Linked DNA regions of Homo sapiens. The protein of the gene in region 1 binds, or shares a complex with, the protein of each later gene. Each region holds a gene or a part of one and is shown in the gene's direction. Other genes may lie near its edges.

Region 1 (7,693 bases):
TTACATATAATAGAAGGATTTTTGAAAAGTCATGAGTGCAGTAAGGAAGACAAAAAGATTGCTTACTGGATTGATGCTTTTAAAAATGTTTTGTATGATAGCCAAAATTCAAAGTGTTCTTTCAGATTGTGAGGCAGTTTTGAGTGAAATCATTTTGTTGTTATATGGCACATGTATCAATATGCCTTCCAGAACTATTACATATGAAAAGTAAGCCAAATACATTACTTCTTTTCACGAAGAATTCTCAAGCATCTTGTAGAAGAGGAAATGGTGGTGTGTGCCTCATGGAGCAGGTGTACCTATTGGAATGTATATCTGGAATATTCAATGCGGTGTAAGCTGTCAGGGCTGTCTGGTTATTAATGAAGTCAATGCATGTTTCATTATATTCATAAAGCCTTGCTGTTAAAAAAAAATCTAATGCCTAGAAATGTTTTGAAAATAAAATAATTACCAGCTAAATCTTCAAAACGTATTCCATACAGTTTGAATTTTAAAAAATTTTTAAGTGTTTTATTATTTCATTTCATTTTTGTAGACACAGGGTCTCACTATGTTGCCCAAGCTGATCTCAAACTCCTGGCCTCAAGCTAAAATTTTTTAAATGCCCCTCTCAGATGGAAATTTTTAACATGCTATGTATTAATTTAATTTGGAATGATATCAATAAGTGGAAAAATATATTATATTCATTTCCTGAATATAATTAGGAAGATCAATTATTAAAAAAGATGACAATTATCCCTAATACAGAGATATAATACAATAACGTTTACAGTCCCCAAAGAAATGACTATACAAATTCAAAAACTGGCAGAGAAATTCATGTCTTTGCCCTAAATGAAATTAACTTTCCCTACCTTTCCCTCTTTTATTCTTGCTCTATAATCTCCTCCTATCATCACCAACTACTATAGTTTTAACTACCATCTATATGTTTATAATTTCCAAATCTGTATCTCTATCTACCTCAGAACTCTCCAGCAAGATCCATACTTCTATCAAGTATCGCCTAATGAATATCTACAGCTGAATTCCTCATAGACACCTCAAACTCAACACATCTAAATCATCTTTCCACGTTCCCCCTAAACCTGCTCTCCACCCAGAACTCACAATCTTCACAGTTTTCCAAGTCAGAAATCTGGAAGTCATCCTACATCCCTTCTACCCCTCATTAGATACTCTGTCTTTAGCCTTCTTCTCTCTAATCTCTTTCAAATCTTAAGTGTTATCCCAGCCAAACATTTTTTAATGAGTCCCCACCACCTTTATCCCCTATGGCCTACAAAGGCTTTCAAACTATTAAGCATAAAATATTAATGACCTGGACCTTGAGTAGAAGAGGCAAAATCCCCCTTAGGAGAAGAGGGAAACAGAAAGTCAACTTCATTCAGTGCAAAGATATGAATGATGTTTGCAACCACATCCCACTACTTCATCTTATTTTATATTCCTGGAGTACTCAACTGGAAGGCACTGTGTTAGGTATGTGGCATACATTATGTCATTATTTTACCTAGCCGCCAAGAAGAGACACCGCATATCCACTACCAATCTTTATTAATTTCAAAACTCCTTTCATACCCTATTTTAGATCACTGTCCCAACCATGACTAGGCTCTCATGATCTACATCTGACACTAATTATCTGGTTAGTCTTAAAATAGAAGAAAAGAAAAAGAAAACAACAATAACAGCAAAAGGCAGTGAAGACACTGATTTGAATGGATGACAGAAAGTACAGATATTCTTTATCACCATCTGTTCTGAGATAATAGACGTAAAGGCTTTTTATAATAATATTGTCAATAACTTCCATCACTAGTAACTATTCGCCAAAATTCTCTTTAACAGTACAGTTACAATACAAAATACCGTTTAACAAAATTATTACCTGGCAATAAGCATAGTTTCCGAGAGCTTTATGAGCTTCATCAATAACTAAACACTTTATTTCAGCAGCGGGACAAGCTCCTCTAGAAAGGTCATTTACCATGACCTGAGGTGTAAGAAAAAGCACTCTCTTACTGCACCATATTTCCTTCCTGGTGGAAGCTTGTGTAGACCCTGAAAATAAAAGTGACATTCTACATTCTAAACTTCAGACTGTTATCTATAAAATATAAATAGTCTGGCTTTTTCAGAATGCAAACATGCTTTGGTAACATTAAGAGAAAAACAATTTGACAATTCATCGGAATGCTACATTTTAAAGTTCTGGTGTGGTCCAAATATCAAAGCTGGCACTTATCTAGGACTACAACCAAATTGTCTTTAGAAAATTCCTACAAAATGGCATATTTGAAGAGAGGCAAATTCTTCAACTGAGAAATCTTTTTCAGGAAGAATGCCAGGAAATATCATGTTCAGTTACCCATGGGGTATACGCACATAATAGCTTCAAAATACTATGACAAGCTGCAGATATTCTCTGAAGATTGAATAAAGCAACCCTATTCATCAGTTTTGGGCTTGCTGCAAGTAGAGAATGTTTTAAGAGGGAGGGCGTAAGATGCACATGTTGTAGCTTGGGAACTATTCCACATGGGTCAGGAATTCCCAGCTCTTACTTCAAAATTAGTCCAGTCTAAGATACCTGTCATTTCGGCCATGTGGGATTGCGGGATACCCATCACCTGGTAGCAAGCCTCGATCTGCTGTGTCACCAAGGGTTTCGTTGGGGCCATGAAGACCACCTTTCCTGAAGGGAACCAGCGGTAGAAATTGTACATGACCACGGCGGCAATAAAGGTCTTTCCCAGTCCGGTAGGCAGACACACCAGCGTATTGCAAAACAGAGCAGCCCGGGAAATGTGCAGCTGGTAGTCCCGCACTGGGCAATTGGTAGGGTAAATCCACAGGGCGCCCGCGGAGGTGCAGAACCCGCCATTCTCTAGACACAACTGCCGCTCAGCCTCGTACGCCGCGACAAGCAACACATCATCGTCCGACTCCAGCTGAGCCTCCGCTGCTGCTGGCAAAGGCGCCTTGGAGCTGCCAGGGCTCTGAGGTCGCTCAGTTCCGGAGCTGCAACCCGGAGTCCCAGATGATCGGGAGATACTTGAGCCCCACGTCTGAAAAAGCGTTCTTTGCCGTCCGCTCATTAGGCCGACAACCACCGAAGGCTTCTGTCAGATATCCGTAGCAGCAGCAGCTCAACCGCTACGGTTCCGATCCCCATCGGTTTCCTTCGCACAAAACTCTGGAACGAGAAGGCGGGACTAAGGCCAGTTTATCCAGTTGAAAATGCCGCTACTGAGTTTCCGTTGGGAATGATTGGCTGGCTTCCCGGAAACCTTCACAGCCCTGCCGGAGACTCATGCGCATTATTAAGGCGTTACTCTAAATATGGTCCCCGGTGCGGTTCCGGTGTTTTGTTTTAACAAACTCTAAATTTAAGTTCCGTTTCCAATGATTAGATGGCTGGGCGTCATTGCTAACGTGATAAATCACTTAAAATGTTATAATAGAGATTTATTGTAAAATATTACATACCCGGGGACAATGGAATAGCCACCAGTTTGGGAACTTAATGTTATTGAGCGTCTAACGTGCCTCATTCCTTGTACTTTTAAATCAGAATATAAAGTGAAAAGCAAAAATGTGTAGATGGAATAATTTGTCTTATATCTCTATCTGGGCTGAGAAAACAAAATGCCAAGTCTCTTTTTCACCGCGCTGGGAGTGGCAACCCATTATTTTAATATTTTCATTGTTTAAAGGGAAGTGAACGTGGTCTGGTCCAGCTATTCGTCAGAATTTTTTTTTTTAATGCTCCTTGCAAAGCAGAGCTAACTCATAGGCAACATGCCCAGAGTCAGCCTACATTTTTTTAAGTAAGGAGTCCTGATGTTCAACTATTAAATCTTTATTATAGGTAAGAGCATTATAATAAACGTCGGTGTGCAATTATTCCACTCTAACGAAGATTTCTGTCTCAAATAATTCCTGACTTCTCTCTAAACCTGACTTTGAGTAACCTCTGTAAATTTGTTTCCTCGTGTACTGAGAAAAAAATATACATCACAGAGTTACGAGCATTAATAATGTCATTCTCATCAGCAAGTGGCATCCTGAGTGCGGCTTCTTTATAAATTGTTTTATTTGTTAAAGTTTCTGAACTTCGTTTTGGACAAACTTTCTCGTATTTGTATGGGGGGAAGGGGATGGGCAGTTTGTATTTAAGTTTCGGTTGTGTGATCTTTAAAAGGGAAATGGTGGGATATGGGTTTTCGGATCGACAAGGACTGAAGCACTTCAGGTGTGACTTTTTAGGCTAGAACTAGATAAAACGAGATAAGGAGCCTGAATGCTGTTTTCTTTTAACAGGTTATAGACTGGACTTTAAAGGCATAGCTGCCTTAAATGTGGGTAATGGTTGATAAATGTCGCTACCATCAGAGGTCGCTTCACAAGGTGTCTAATTCAGAATCGAAGATCTCTAGCGGTCTTCTACTCAGTCGACTGCAGAGACGACCGCGGTAGGTTTTTCAACCCGGACTCAACAAAGAAGCCCTCATAGCACAGCCTTGACGTCACTCAAAGACAGGCCCCAATCCCGACTGCTAGAGCAGAGGCCCGCCCCTCGACCTCCGTGAGTGGCCCCGCCCCGCCCTAGGGGGCGGGGCGATGCCGAACTGCGGCGGGCTGGCTCAGTAAAGCGGAGGCAGCGGGGGAAGATGGCGGCGGCCGTTCCACAGCGGGCGTGGACCGTGGAGCAGCTGCGCAGTGAGCAGCTGCCCAAGAAGGACATTATCAAGTTTCTGCAGGAACACGGTTCAGATTCGGTACCAGAGGCGTAGGGGCGGCCGGGCTGGTGCGGCTGAGGGACGCCTCACCCCCCTGGAGATGCCCATACATTCCGTATTCCTCTGTGCCCCCGCCCTCGTCTTCCCGCGGCCGGTGGCCTGGAAGGCCGGAGAGGCCCAGCTTGTGCTTTGGTGCCTCGCTCCCGCCTCTCGGGCGTTCTCTACTGGGGCAGGGGAGCAGCTTTATTTCTTGGGGCACACAGGCTGCAATTGTAGAGTTAGAACCTCATTGGGATCCTTGAGTGGGGGTGGAGGCCAGAAAAATAGGAACCCGAGGATATTGGGGGCTAGGGCGGAGAGGCCGAGGAATAGTGGTGTGGATGAGACTCCTGGGAGCGGGGCGCCGGCTACTAGGGAAATGGGAAGGGATGTGAAGATTTCTGTGGGAACGGTGTATCCAACTTGCTTTTCTCAACAGTTTACTAAATACTGAACATTAATGCGTGTGATTTTTAAAAAATCCGTAGGTTGTGGTTTAAGTTTTGATTTAACATATCGACCCTTTAAATGACCTTTTCACCTTTATACTTTAAGGGAGCTACATGCACATTTCTCTTGTGCAGTGGTCTGTCATTGTTATAAACAGACTAAGAAATTTATTTGAAATGCTTTATACTGTAGGCTCTCCATTTGTCAGCATAGTCTCCATCTTAACCATCCGTCTATAGTCAAGTTATTTTTGTTACACTTGTTTTTCCTTTGGAAAATAAGTTCATTCATGCACCTGTTAAATTGCTGAAATAGTTGTGCACGCAGCATTCTCTTACAAGCGGCAGCCTGCTTGTGTTTTCTATACAATTTTTAAAATTCTAAACTTTTCATTTAGAAAAACTGTTTCTGGGTTTTTTTGTTTGTTTGTTTGAGACGGAGTCTCTCTCTGTTGCCCAGGCTGGAGTGCAGTGGCGCGATCTCGGCTCACTGCAACCTCCGCCTCCCGGGTTCAAACGATTCTCCTGCCTCTGCCTCTCGAGTAGCTAGGACTACAGGCGCGTGCCACCACGCCAGGTTAATTTTTTGTATTTTTAATAGAGACGGGATTTCACCGTGTTAGTCAGGATGGTCTCGATCTCCTGACCTCGTGATCCGCCCGCCTCGGCCTCCCAAAGTGCTGGGATTACAGGCGTGAGCCACTATTTCTGGGTTATTTTGAGAAGCTTATATTTTATTTTCATTTTGGGCGGGCGTCATGACAGGGAGATAGAAGAACTCTCCAACTTCCAGTGCCTTCTTCCTTAATTATTATCCTGGCATCCGCATCTTAGATTAATTTAGCAGATATTAATACAACATCTGTAACAAGAACTATTCTCAGTGTTTGGAGGTACAAGGGTGAAAAAGAACATGTGTCGGGGATCTTACCCCATTTTAATGGAACTATTTTCTCTTAAGCCAATTCGTATTTCATCTGAAACAATAGAATAGACATCATTAACATTTAATAATACCTCAGTCATGTACTTCATCCATCATATTCTTATGAAACAAATCATGCCATGTGGAATCGTATGTAAAACTGGGCCACGTGGAAGAATTTCAACAGACTTGGATTATCAAAATGTTTTTATAACATTAATCTTTTAAATGCATAGTCTCGGTCGGTCGTGGTGGCTCATTCCTGTAATCCTAGCACTTTCGGAGGCCAAAGCGGGCGGATCACGAGGTCAGGAGATCGAGACCATCCTGACTAACAGTTGAGGCCAGGCATTGAGGACCAGCCTGGCCAACGTAGCGAAACCTCATTTCTACTAAAAATACAAAAAAAATTAGCTGGGCCTGGTGGTGGGCGCCTCTAATCCCAGCTGTTCGGGAGGCTGAGGCAGGAGAATCGTTTCAACCCAAGAGGGGGAGGTTGCAGTGGGCCGAGATTGGGCCACTGCACTCCAGCCTGGGCGACAGAGCTAGACTCTGTCTCAAAAATTAATAATAATAATCTCCGGTGATCATTAACACTTAGACCTATACTTGACAATAATTATTTTATTAATCATAAGATATCAAAGAGATGTTTATGCTTTTATGCTTTGGGTATTTTCTGGAATCTTTAACAAGAAACCACCAGCATGCTAAAGGTAACTGATTACTTCCGTTTAGTCAACTTTGTCTCCTTTCCCCATCAGCTGTTATTTAGAACATATCTTTGAAAGAAAAAGCAAAAGAAAAAAATACAATAGTGATAGTGTTAGCTGTTAACTGCTAATAATGTTAACTGCTTTATCAAAAGCTTAGAAGATGCCAAAGGACAACTTTGAGAATGTAACAAAATTAGGAATTAAGCAAGGACCACAAGGCAGAAAAAGAAGCAGAATAAAATAAGGAAACAAAGAAGTTATGGAAATCCTCACAATTACGTGATTTTCAGATAAAGTTATACTACGACTTGCTATTTCAGCAGTAGTATTTTAGTGTCCATCTGCCATCTTAGCAGTCTTATATTTGAAAGAAAAGCAATTCCGCTGTTACCTTGAGTTATTAAATACAGTATTAATCATAATCCCAATATTTATTAAGTTCTTACTGTGTGACAGGCTCTATGCTAAATGCATTAAATGGATTTTTGCATTTTATCCTTATATCAACTCTTTGACGTAGACGCTGTTATTAATCTTCCACTACAGATATGGAGGCTGAGTCTTTAGACAAGCTTAGTCCCCTGTCTAGTGTCAGACAGCTAGGATTTTTTTTTTTTTTTTTTTTTTTTTGAGACAGAGTCTTGCTCTGTCACCTAGGCTGGAATGCAGTGGTGCGATCTCGGCTCACTGCAACCTCCACCTCCCAGGTTCACGCCATTCTCCTGCTTCAGCCTCCCGAGCTGGGACTACAGGCATGCGCCACCATGGCCAGCTAAATTTTGTATTTTTAGTAGAGATGGGGTTTTGTCA
Region 2 (7,033 bases), on another chromosome or scaffold:
TAATCTCATTACAAAGAATGGAGGCAAAGGGAAAAGTAAGGGAGAAGCCATATAGCAATCAATAAAGAAGTAACTCTCAACTGTCACCCACAAAAAATTGGGTTTGGGGTAGGTAAGTCCATACAGACCTATCTGTACCAGGTACATGGTTTATGCTGTCATTGAGAGACAAAGGTCAAGATGGAAAGATGGTATCTTAAAAATGTATTCCAAAAGCCCATCTCCTTTCTTGCGTGTGGCTGAAAATTTTGCTAGCTCCTTCACATTGCCTCTTGAGAATAAGAGGAAATACCAGAAGGGCTTCAGTGTCCCCTAACAATTTGTGGTCCTCTTAGGAGGGCTGTTTTGAGGAGGGAATGTCATGGGGGCTTGTTTCTCTGCTTCCAGATGCTTCCTGAAACTTGGAGAGTGGCAGCTGAATCTACAGGGCATCAATGAGAGCACAATCCCCAAAGTGCTGCAGTACTACAGCGCCGCCACAGAGCACGACCGCAGCTGGTACAAGGTGATCAGAAGCAGGCCACCTGTGAGACCCAGCACCCTGGCTGGCTCGTGTCCTCCTGTGTGCTCGTGGTTACAGCTGAGCTTCTGCGGAGCTAGGCTGATGCTGTGAACTTACTCCTTGAGTCCCTGGAGCCTATCTATAAGAGGCCCAGGGAGCCTGCATTTCCCCCTACAAGTTTAATTAATACAGAAAGATTATTGGAGAAATACTTGTTACACCATTATTATGTGTATGTGGTGTTGGGGATTGCTGCTGTCTTACAGACTCTGAGCTGCTTGTTTTCCTGGGAGCATCTGGACACATGGTTAATCTCTGGAGTGACATCTTCCCTTAGGTCATCTGTTCTTGTTCAGCGTTTTTCTGATTTGCATCCTTGCCTGCTCCTCAGCTAAGAACTTAACTTTCTTTGTTTTTATTGGAAAGATCCAAGTAACATCCTGTTATGTTACAGGAAACTTTTGAAAGAGATAAACAGAATTAGAAAATATATAAAAGATGTGATTGATGGAGGGGTGATTTTTGGAAGTGTATATCTTTGGTGAGAATATACTTTCTTATTTCTTTTTGAGAGGCTTTCTGGTAACTACTTGGTGTGGCAGATGTCATTGACATCTTTCCAGTATTTCCTTGGCTTGCCAATACTTTGTGAATTAATCTCTCTGAAATCTAAACTTGTATCTGAGGACTGCAGAAGCACTTATAATACAGATCTTACCTTTGTTTAGGCATGCTTCATTCTGGTTTGAAAAATGTCCATTTTGTCATAAGAGTAATACTCTCTCTAGGACAGCTTGCATGTCCAAAGCTGGAAAATACATCCGGTAAACACTATTAACTGGAAGCTTATTAATCAGAGTTGTATTCTAACCAGAGTTACTTTCATTCATTAAGCTTTTAGGAAGTAAGCAAATCACAAGAAAAAAGTTGGTTTCAGGAACTTTAGTTTTAGTTTTTAAAAGCTTTTCCTAATGTGGGTCCCTTTTGTTTTATGATGTATTCTACCATCAACGTCATGGCCCTGTATGCATGCCAGGACTGTTTGTCTTGTTCACCTTGACCCCAGGTCATTGCCAGGCACATAGCAGATACACAAGAGATATTCAGTGAATAAATGAAGGTATGGGAAAACTGAAACCTGGGTCATTGTAGAATTCTTACTCATCAAGTAAAGGTTAGTTGTGATCAATCTATTCTCCTTAGTTGAGAAAACGGATACACCTGTGTTCAAGGTTTTTGGCAAGGCATACAAACGAATTTCCCAATTATTCAGAAAGTTCAGCTATTAATGGGTCACGTAGTGTCCTACTATCACTGCAAAGTTACCATGCCTGGAAGCAAACTCTGCCTCACACTCGCTAAACCAAGTGGTGGTACGCTGTAGAGTCATTGCCGCTCAGAACCCCAGAGAGAGTAGTATTCCTTTATCCAAATAAGCACCAGCGGTTCTTCCTTCAAGCATTGAGCACTGGTTCTCTGTCAGGCCGTGGGCTAGGTGTTGGGACCAGGCAGATGGGTGAGATTCTTTCTCTGTCAGGCTCCTATGCTCTTCATGTCTTCCTTTGTCCACTATCTGGTGACCTGTCAAAACTTTGCTCCCTTGAAATATTGTGATGACTGCTGCTTGCCCCCACTTCTGCTTGCCATTTCTGCTCTCCCCTAAATGTACACTTTATACCCAGTGCAGCTCTGCTTTCTGGGTGAAAGTGCCAGCCCTGTGCCTGCTCCAGGCGTGCTTTGCTGGCCTCGCTCTCACTCCTCGCCTGCATGTATCCCCTGCACGGTCACATTCATGGGCTTGTTTCCCGTGAACCAATCTGCACATCTCTGGCCTTATTCTTCCCCCTTGCCAAGTAGTCCCCACCGCTGCCTTCTTGTTTCCCTCCTTGCCCTTCTGCAGCTCTCTTCCAGACCTACCCCAAATCCCTCTTCTTGACAAAGCTTTCCAAATGCCTGTCCTTGCTACTCCCATTGTGCCTTGCAGAGTACCTAGGTCTTCAGGTTTGTGCGTGAGCTCCCCTAGGAGGCCGGGAGATCCCTTGAGGCAAGAGCTCTCTCCTGCTCCTCTTGCTGTGCCCTTCTCGCAGTGCACTCATAGTACGTTATATAGTTAGTGCTCCACAAAGTGAGTGGATCATGTTGAATTTAGTAAAACAGCCATTTCTGAGTGTCTCCTTGAAGTGTTTGCTTTATGGACACACAGAACAGGCAGGAGCAGCTGTTCCTCAGCATCGACCTTGCGCTCCTCTGAGCCCTGCTGTTGGTCACAGCTCCAGTGTCTGTCCTTGCCTTTCTCCCCAACCAGGCCTGGCATGCGTGGGCAGTGATGAACTTCGAAGCTGTGCTACACTACAAACATCAGAACCAAGCCCGCGATGAGAAGAAGAAACTGCGTCATGCCAGCGGGGCCAACATCACCAACGCCACCACTGCCGCCACCACGGCCGCCACTGCCACCACCACTGCCAGCACCGAGGGCAGCAACAGTGAGAGCGAGGCCGAGAGCACCGAGAACAGCCCCACCCCATCGCCGCTGCAGAAGAAGGTCACTGAGGTACCCTTCCCTTCTTCCTTATTAACAACCAACCAAGGTGCCAGGCTCTCTGAGAAATGGAATCGTTGTTAAGCTTAAAAGGAACCTGAGGCTGTATCTGAAGTGCCAGATGGAGCTGGAAAATACTGCCTATCTACCATCCAGCACTGCCTGAGATAGGGCTTTGTGTGTGAATATTTGTGTTTGGGGAGCTGACGCAGCCTCTATGCTGAAGAGCAAGCTCCTTGTCAAGCTTCCCTGTGGACGAGCTCATTCTCTACGTGCTGCACCTGTGTGTGGGTGGCTGTACACAGCTGCGGGTCCACTCTGAGGATGGGGCTTGGGAGGTCCATCCTCTGCCTTTTTCTCTCCACTTCCACTTCTTCCCCTTCCCCTTGGGCTGTCAGTTCAGAATGCGCCAGGGCCGCTGGCAGGCCCAGAGATCCGGGTGTTCAGAGCCTCAGCTCCACCTCCTCCCTCCATCCTGTTCAGGAAGCCACTGTCAGCCCAAGATAATAACAGTTATGATACAGTTGCCATTTATTGAGTCTTTGCTATGTGCCAGGTAATGATTAAAGATTTTTCATGCATTAACCGATTTAATTGTTATAACCACCCTTTGAAGTAGGTACAGTTAGTATGCTCTTATGCCCATTTTACAGATGAGAAAGCAGAGGCAAGAGTGTCGCTAACACGTGTGTGTTCCAACAGGATCTGTCCAAAACCCTCCTGATGTACACGGTGCCTGCCGTCCAGGGCTTCTTCCGTTCCATCTCCTTGTCACGAGGCAACAACCTCCAGGATACACTCAGGTATCAGAGAAGGGAAGGATGCAACTCTGGTAGGCCATGTTAATGGCAAGACCTAGAAGTCACACGTAAAAGTCCTCTTTCCCTTCCTGACCCTGATCAGGACACCCAAGATCGATGTATGTGCCTTTTTTCTGCACTGCATTTAAGGAGTAACAGCTGACTGGGCCCCACCTGTGTGGGTGAAACCTACAGAGAGTGAGGAGGAGAAGTGGAGTGAGAACTCTCCATGTGTGGTTTATTATGGAGGGATTATTAACCCATCTGTTAATCACAATATTTCTTTTTTTCTGACCACCCTGTTGCCTATTGAAGTCACAGTATTTCTAAAATCCCTCAGCAACTTGGAGAGGTCTAAACAAATGACTCAAATCAGTTAACCCAGAGGGTAAAGGTGACAAGGTCCACATCCTCCTTCATTTGAGGATCTCCAGCCAGCTAAGAGCCAGGTGTCCCTGTTGCCTCTGCCGTACAGCGACTCTTACATGTGCAGACTTGTGGCTTTCTAAAGGTTATCCTGGCTCGTCTGTTTGATGTTTGCATACATGCCATGGTGACCCCTCGGTGACCTGGGATGAAATGCTCATTTGCTCAGGGTGACTCTTACGGTGTTCAGTCAAGAGCACTGCCACCCATCACAGACACCTGCTCCCATGGGAGGCCAAACACATTTGAGAGTTACTGGTTGGAGTCCCTGCCAGCTCTCTTCTCAGGAGCCTTAGAGATGAAAAACAGGCAGGCAAAAACTGGGAAACTAAATTTTCTGTGACTTTCTCATTTCTTTTTCAGAGTTCTCACCTTATGGTTTGATTATGGTCACTGGCCAGATGTCAATGAGGCCTTAGTGGAGGGGGTGAAAGCCATCCAGATTGATACCTGGCTACAGGTGAGGATACTTGGTTACAGGTGAAGGTGGCTCCAAGTCTCTCTTCTGTGTGTCTCCTCTTACAAGCATGCTGTGTTCAGTGTCACAAGGCAGTGTGTGTTAATACAGTGCTAAGGAAGTAGGGCTCGGTCCCAGTGTCAAGTGTCCATATTTTCTTTATTTTCTTTTAGAAACTAAAGGGAAGGGAATGAACCATTTCAGAGCATCAACCGAAACAAGTTAAAAGAATTGATCTTTGCCTAGAAGAATAACTAGTTGTTTCAAGTCTCATATGCTACATACTGTGTCTTTTTGAATACCAGGTTATACCTCAGCTCATTGCAAGAATTGATACGCCCAGACCCTTGGTGGGACGTCTCATTCACCAGCTTCTCACAGACATTGGTCGGTACCACCCCCAGGTATGTGGAGACTCTGGGCAGTTTCTCATCTAACCACTGGTTTGGTGGTCAGCCTTTCCAAAAGCTGCCCTGGCGACACAAGCGCAGGAACTGGGAGCCATGTGTTCCATCCTGGCCCAGGAGGGTCTGTCCAGCCAGCCGTCCCAGAGGGCCCGGGAGCCTTGCTAAAAAGAAAGCGTTCCCTCGAAGACTGAGCCCCTTCCTGGTAGTCTCAAGCAGATGTTAATGTCACACTCACCACTTGTTTTGTTATTCTCCTTAAAATTCATACCAGCTCTTCCCCAACCCACATTTCCTTTATAGATGTTTCTTCTGTTTTTCCCTCAGGCCCTCATCTACCCACTGACAGTGGCTTCTAAGTCTACCACGACAGCCCGGCACAATGCAGCCAACAAGATTCTGAAGAACATGTGTGAGCACAGCAACACCCTGGTCCAGCAGGCCATGATGGTGGGTCGGAGCCACTGTGGGGCTTCATAGACCCTGGTCCCTTAGCTGGTGGGCGCAAGTGGGATTGTTTTTCTTCCTCGCATTGGTGCTGTGCACTTCCTCTGACTGCTGGAAATAGTACCTCCTGTGTCTCCAAAACAGACCTTTCTGAGGTTAGCTGATTCTTGATGCTTCTCTCCTTCTTCTCTTGGCTTCAGGTGAGCGAGGAGCTGATCCGAGTGGCCATCCTCTGGCATGAGATGTGGCATGAAGGCCTGGAAGAGGCATCTCGTTTGTACTTTGGGGAAAGGAACGTGAAAGGCATGTTTGAGGTGCTGGAGCCCTTGCATGCTATGATGGAACGGGGCCCCCAGACTCTGAAGGAAACATCCTTTAATCAGGTATGGGGTAAAAAACACGAAAGGACATAACCCTGTAGAAATATTCTGCCACTAAAAAAAAATGAAATGAGAAAAGTTTTTATAGAATGAAAGGACGTGACCCAAGGCCTTTGTCAGATTTCTTTTCCTCTGGCCTTTCCACTGACTTTAATAAAACGAGCTCTGATGGAGGTCACAGAGCATAAAACATCAGAAATTAGTTACAGGGACCCTTCTGAATTTTAACTGGAAAAGCCCAAGATTTCTCAAGAGGTCATCTCGTCTCTCCTCTCACCCTTCCTTCCCTATAAGCCATGCTGCTGGTTTGGAAGCTCCAGGGTTGGAGGCCTGCACCTATGCTCTTGCTTTCTCCAGCCCCCTGCCAGTGTTTTCAGGCCACAGCGGGCTCCTGAGGAATATCTGCAGTCAGCCTGGGGATTTTGCCTCCTGGGTTGGTTGAGACTTTGATAACTTGAAAACGTGCCTGCTTTCTCTCTCAGGCCTATGGTCGAGATTTAATGGAGGCCCAAGAGTGGTGCAGGAAGTACATGAAATCAGGGAATGTCAAGGACCTCACCCAAGCCTGGGACCTCTATTATCATGTGTTCCGACGAATCTCAAAGCAGCTGCCTCAGGTAGGATCTTCAGGCTCCTGGCAGGGTTAACTGTCATTATAGTCCTTTCTGTTTTACTGTCTATGAATGTTCTAACACTCATTCCAAAGCATCTGGTTTTACTTCTGCTTTGGGACAAGTAATTGTTATTAGCAATCCACTGAAAAATACTTAAATTGCGTTTAAATTCTTCCCTGGAGGCAGAACACTAAATCCTTTGGTAATTATTTACAGCTCACATCCTTAGAGCTGCAATATGTTTCCCCAAAACTTCTGATGTGCCGGGACCTTGAATTGGCTGTGCCAGGAACATATGACCCCAACCAGCCAATCATTCGCATTCAGTCCATAGCACCGTCTTTGCAAGTCATCACATCCAAGCAGAGGCCCCGGAAATTGACACTTATGGGTAAGGACCATTGTGCACTTCTGTCACCCACTTCTCCCTCCTACACTGGCTGAGACCCCTTCCCTCTTCT

Evidence for each region. The genes of interacting proteins can lie anywhere in the genome.
Region 2: the proteins of FKBP3 (region 1) and MTOR are in contact, whole or in part, in a crystal structure (PDB 5GPG), measured with the Homo sapiens proteins. Residues at the interface, in NP_002004.1 of Homo sapiens: Lys160, Pro161, Leu162, Ser163, Lys170, Tyr198, Lys201, Gly202, Gln203, Pro204, Asp205, Ala206; in NP_001373429.1 of Homo sapiens: Glu2032, Tyr2038, Phe2039, Gly2040, Arg2042, Tyr2088, Val2094, Leu2097, Tyr2105, His2106, Arg2109.

What each region holds. Positions count from the first base shown.
Region 1 is NC_000014.9:45,131,449-45,139,141, reverse strand, and holds the start of FKBP3 (peptidyl-prolyl cis-trans isomerase FKBP3), read left to right. Parts: upstream 1-4,660; 5' UTR 4,661-4,685; coding exon 4,686-4,793; intron 4,794-4,887; exon of another isoform or gene 4,888-6,874; coding exon of another isoform or gene 6,875-6,883; intron 6,884-7,693. Other genes in the region: FANCM (Fanconi anemia group M protein), read right to left, coding at 1,901-2,073, 2,603-3,110. UniProt on the Homo sapiens protein: FK506- and rapamycin-binding proteins (FKBPs) constitute a family of receptors for the two immunosuppressants which inhibit T-cell proliferation by arresting two distinct cytoplasmic signal transmission pathways. PPIases accelerate the folding of proteins.
Region 2 is NC_000001.11:11,126,552-11,133,584, reverse strand, and holds part of MTOR (serine/threonine-protein kinase mTOR), read left to right. Parts: intron 1-387; coding exon 388-505; intron 506-2,807; coding exon 2,808-3,056; intron 3,057-3,746; coding exon 3,747-3,847; intron 3,848-4,633; coding exon 4,634-4,730; intron 4,731-5,032; coding exon 5,033-5,131; intron 5,132-5,458; coding exon 5,459-5,581; intron 5,582-5,778; coding exon 5,779-5,961; intron 5,962-6,440; coding exon 6,441-6,575; intron 6,576-6,788; coding exon 6,789-6,963; intron 6,964-7,033. UniProt on the Homo sapiens protein: Serine/threonine protein kinase which is a central regulator of cellular metabolism, growth and survival in response to hormones, growth factors, nutrients, energy and stress signals.